2 separate regions of the Homo sapiens genome follow, and region 2 is linked to region 1. The links come from fine-mapping of genetic effects on gene expression. A gene starts in region 1. The other region holds a variant in brackets. All regions are shown on one strand. Distances are from middle to middle.

Region 1 (2,500 bases):
AGTGCCTATCAGGAGTTGTGTCCTGGACCCCTAGTCTTAGTAGGCATTCCACAGATCCTTGTGATATGGACAGGAGACAGGGAAATACTGGGTAGAAGAGGGTGGTTCCCTGGCAAAGGCCCCACCCTCAAGCCTGGGTACCCATGGCCCTAAATGAGGACAGCCATTCCTGTTTTCATCCCTAAAAAGTTGCCTTTTGGCCTGCCATGTCCCCTATCCTGTACCCATATAAACCCTGAACCCCAGGCTCCAGGCTCCAGAAGCAGACGGGGAGACAAGAAGATGAGCAGACATGAATGGCAGAAAAGCACGGCAAAGAAGGAGAGAAGAGAAGGAACATTGGGAGGAATTCGACTGGAGACGATCTGAAAACTGGCCACTGGATGGCCAAACTCCAGGGGAAGATCATCTTCCCACTCCATCCCCTGTCCAGCTCCCCATCCATCCTACTTAGAGCCACCTCCACCACTCAATAAAACCCCTGCATTCATCCTGCAAATCCATGTGTGACCTGATCCCTCCGGGATGCTGGACAAGAGCTCGGGATACAGGAAACTGTCACACTGGCCCTCTGCCCTGGCAAAAAGGGAGAGGGTCCACTAAGCTGGTTAACGCTTAAGCTGTCCACGGATGGCAAGGCTGAAAGACTGCACTGTTTCAGTGCCTACTCGGGCTTTGGAAGTCACAGACACCGACCCCGGGATGCTGTCATGGGGCTGGGGCCCAAAAGTGCTCACCCTGGTTCCTGCACCTGCCTGTCTGCGTGCTCCCCTTCCCATAAGGGGTTTTAGCTTGGGGTGGCTGAAGAGAGAGCCACACCCCTGTTGCACATCCTGTGAGGGGGCCAGGGAATTCTCCTGTTCCACTTAGTAGTATCTTAGGCCTTCAGTGGAAGGAAACAGCATGTTCCACGCCCTGTAGCATCCAAGAAGCTGCAAGTCCTCCCTCCTCACCCCAAGAGCATTTCTCACACCCACACCACACACCTCACTTTGCTGTTGGCTGTGGTTATTTTTTTCTCTAACTAAGCACATCTAAACCATGCCTAGTTGTGGTTCTTCAGTCAGGGTCAAGTGGTGTTAGCAATCACATCAGCACCAAATGGCTCAGGATGCTCTGGTTTCAAAGCTTATAAAACAGAGGGTGATTCCCTTGGGACTCACTCAGCTCGGCTCCGAAAAGCAAAGGCCAGAAGGCAGCAGTGAGCCTGGGTCCCTGCTGTGTAGGGAGACTCAGGGGCTGGGAAGAAGGATGGAATCAGAAATGCTGAAGGTTTACGTGAGCTTTGCACCGAGCGCCTCCGAACCACTGCCTCTGGGCTCAACAGAACACAGGGGTAAGTCTCCATGAACTTCTCAAAAAGAAAACTGGGAAGCTTTCTGTCTTGATGATTTGAGGACCCACTGGTTTCAGAGGTGCCACATTTGGAACCAGATCCGAGTCTTTAAGGTTTGTGTTTTATTTGTTCATGTCAAAATGTGGCTTCCTGCTTCTAAGAAAAGAAACTCAGGCTCATAAAAGCAGCCTCCAAGGGCTTCTTGGACCTCAAATTGCGCTTTCAAAATGTGGTCTGATGGGTTCAGTGTAAATGCACCAGAGGCATGTGGGATCCATTTACCTTAAAATACACTTGGGCCTAAAAATTAAGAGAAAAACAGTCCAGGGCAAAGTGTATACTGCAAAGTCAAGCTCCAAACATTTGGGAAACAGTTCTAGAGGCTGCTGGAACCCCAAATGCTACTTGCTTTACCTACCCCTTGGGAATCATCAAATGTTATTTTTTGTACAAGACTGGGGATGAGCCTGCTCTCTGATCCCAGTGCTGTGCTCTGCTGTGCAGTTCTAATGGGGCAGGCTGTTTCCTGGACCCTGAGATCTCCAGGCTCCCTGTGCCTATTCCTTGTCAGCTTTGCCCCATCCAGGAGCTGGGCTGAGCTTGTCAAGTGACCTCTGCTTTGTACCACTCCATCAGGTCCTGAAGAATGAAGGGTACCAAGGTGGAAGGGGCGCAGGATTAAGAGTAGGGACGCCTGCAAAAGCTCTCGTGTTACCACCTCATCTTCCAACTTTCATGTGGGTGAAAACGTTCATCCTAAATAATTGCTTCTAATTCTGAAGTTTTGTGATTCCTTGAAATGTACTTTGGGGATGACAGCCAGCATTTCCATTTCACTGCAATTTCAGAGTTTTGCAGTGGTTTGCCAATCATAACACTTTCTAATTGGCACAAAATCCACCTACCTGTTGCCTCTCAGGCTTGGGTAACATACTTCAGACACTTTCTTAGGTAAGTCTTGGCCCTTGGGGTGTTATTTGCCCAGATGGTAAAAACATTTAAGTAGGTCTGATTATTTCATTTTCAGTGGTTTCAACGCATTTTTGTGGCCTGGGTGGTTACTGTAATGTGCCCAAGTTGTTCATTCTGAGCCAACGGGGTCACCCACAGAGAGAAGACTTGACAAAGGAACTCTCCTCTACTCCCCTCTTGCCAGATGAAATA
Region 2 (3,028 bases), 43 kb after region 1:
GATTGTATACAATTTCTCTGATCACAGTGGAATTCAGCTACAAATCAATATCAATAAGATAGCCAGGAAATCTAAATTAAAGAAAAACAAAAGAATAAGACAGATGGAGAACTGAAATAGGGCTTTGTTATTAATAAAGCTAATTTAGATATGGCATGTATCTGCAGGCAAGTAGGTTTTCTAATACAGACAAATCTTTCTCAAAGAAACTAGAGACAGCAAGAAGCATTCCTACCCTAACGTAGTTCAAAGGTGCAAAAGTAAAAAAGAGAATGGTGTGTTTCTAGCACATCAGGTAGTTATATTTTGAAGCTTGGTATTTGCAGAAGGAAGTAGTGGAAGATGAGCAAGAGAAGGGTCACATATTGTATTTAGCAGAATAAATTTTATCCTGAAAGTGATAGAGAGATATAGCATTACTTAAAGCAGACGAAGGACCTTAGCAGCACAGTGGGGGGATAAAAAGAATTTGAAAGGCAAACCTATTAGCTGGCTCTCTGTAATTTGGGGTATCATAACATCTGAATCAAAATAGTCAAATTGAGAATAGAAAGGAAGGTGTGAAAATTACAAGGATGGCCAGGCGCGGTGGCTCACACCTGTAATCCCAGCACTTTGGGAGGCCGACGCGGGTGGATCACGAGGTTAGGAGTTCAAGACCAACCTGGCCAAGATGGTGAAACCCCGTCTCTACTAAAAATACAAAAATTAGCCGGGCATGGTAGCGGGTGCCTGTAATCCCAGCTACTCAGGAGGCTGAGGCAGGGAATTGCTTGAATCCGGAGGCGGAGGTTGCAGTGAGCCAAGATCGCACCACTGCACTCCAGCCTGGATGACAGAGCGAGACTCCATCTCCAAAAAAAAAAAAAAAAAAAAAAAAAAGAAAAGAAAAAGAAAATTACAAGGATTAAGGGGCTCTACTCAACAGAATTCTAGCCCTTGCCTATTTCACAGTTCACCTGCTAACTACTCTTTCTGTTGCTTAGTACCTTGCAAAATAATGCAAAGTGGGTACAACTCAAGATTTTTGCAATTTCTGGAATGCTCCACCATCAAGAACTTTGCTAGCTGATCCTTTCTTGTGTTTATGTTCCAGCTGGATTGTTACCTCCTCAGAGAAGTCTTTTCTGATTATACAAAGTTAACATTCATTCCTTTTGAATCCTGGTTAATTTTCCTCATTGGATTGAATGTATCATGTGTTTGTTTATTTTTCTGTTTATCTCCCTCCTCTGTTGTAAGCGCTCCAAAAGCTTGTCTGTCTTGTTC[C/A]CTATTTTGTCTTCAGTGCCTAGCAAATTGCCTAGTACATAGTAGATGCTCAATAAATGCTTGTAAGTGAATGGATGAATTGGATGTGTGGATTTTGGGAGCAGAAGGACTCAAGAATGGCACTTGTATTTCTGGCTTAGTTAATTAGCTGGATAGTGGCACTGTAGTAGGAAATACCAGAGGAAAAGCAGGTTTGCAGGGGAAAGTCGTGATGATGTACTGTCCTTTATTTGTGAGAATACCATAGACAGGCTGTTCCTAGACTATGTCAGACCAGCAGAGGCAAATAAGCCCTTTGGGAATCTCAAAAGGAAGTGATATTAAAAGTATTTTAACAACTTGTCGTGCATGAGCACTGACTGTAATATTGGAGCAGAGTCATGGAGGCCCCTGCTTTTTCAGACATTTACCTCAGGGGTGCCTAGGGAGGAGTTAAAGTGACTAGGGTGTTTATAGCTTTTATCTATTGATATGGAAGTATTTAAGTCTTTTTACAATCTGTCCTCATACTAGAATGTTCTAGCTAAATGTCCCCATATCATTTCTGGCATTGGGTAAAGTGCCTAGCATGAATCAGATCTGTTGTAAGTGGGATCTGATGATAATAAATATAATAATGATGCCGCTGATGACAGCAAACATTTATTCTTAAAACAGCCCTACCACTAGTTTTATACTTTATGTGCATTACTTTGGTTGATCATCACAATAGCCCTAAGAAGTGTTTTGTTGTTGTTGTTGTTGTTGTTTTTTAATTGATGAAGAAGTTGAAGGTTAAAAAGGTTAAGTAACAGATTTAAGGTCATATAGCTAATAAGTGAAAGTTACAGGATTGGAACATAGGCAGTATACTTTTAACCATTTATATTTGTTTCTCCTTGTTGCTAAAAAAGCAAACATGTGGCTATGTAGATAGCCAGCACATAGTCTGTTAACCTGACTGGTCCTGCCCTTCTACCCATACCCTACCTAAAGCAATGTGGTGTATTAGAAAAAGTTGTGAAGCTTAGGGTTTGGTTCTAAACCTAACATTATCTAGTTGCTTGACTCATTATTTTCTTTGGGTAAAATTAGAAGGACTTTGATAAAATGATTTCTTTTTTCTTTTTTTTTTTTTTTGAGATGGAATTTTGCTCTTGTTGCCCAGTCTGGAGTGCAATGGCGTGATCTCGGCTCACTGCAACCTCCGCCTCCCGGGTTCAAGTGGTTCTCCTGCCTCAGCCTCCTGAGTAGCTGGGATTACAGGCATGTGCCACCATGCCCAACTAATTTTTTATTTTTAGTAGAGATGGGGTTTCTTCAGGTTGGTCAGGCTGGTCTCGAACTCCCGACCTTAGGTGATCCACCCGCCTTGGCCTCCCAAAGTGCTGGGACTACAGGCATGAGCCACCATGCCTGGCCCCTGATAAAATGATTTCTAAGCCTTCGGCTCTGCTAATGTTTTTGAGGCCTCTTTTTCTGTTAATGTTCTGTAATTCTACTTATGTATTATTTTTTCAGGTTTATTGAGGTCTAATTGATATGTAGTAAGTTACATATACTTGAAATCGATAATTTGATGTTTTCATGTTTTCATGTATGTATGTACCTATGAAACCATCACCACAGTCAAGATAATGAGTATAGGCTCGGCACGGTGGCTCATGCCTGTAATCCCAGCACTTTGGGAGGCTGAAGCAGGCGGATCACGAGGTCAGGAGATCGAGACCATCCTGGCTAACACGGTGAAACCCCGTCTCTACTAAAAAATACAAAAAAT

The links. PIP is the estimated chance that this variant, and not a neighbour inherited with it, causes the effect.
Region 2: its variant is fine-mapped to the expression of TC2N in whole blood (TOPMed, PIP above 0.99). The same link has a PIP of 0.9 or more in blood mononuclear cells.

What each region holds. Positions count from the first base shown.
Region 1 is chr14:91,866,098-91,868,597 of GRCh38, reverse strand. It overlaps TC2N (tandem C2 domains, nuclear), which reads left to right and starts at 1,062. Exons shown (of 12, transcript NM_001128596.3): 1 at 1,062-1,336. RefSeq lists an enhancer at 847-896.
Region 2 is chr14:91,822,881-91,825,908 of GRCh38, reverse strand. All of the region lies in intron 1 of TC2N (tandem C2 domains, nuclear), which reads left to right. Among named protein-coding and RNA genes, the nearest start is that of TC2N, 43 kb to the left of the region's middle. The variant C/A (reference allele first, on the strand shown) is at 1,270.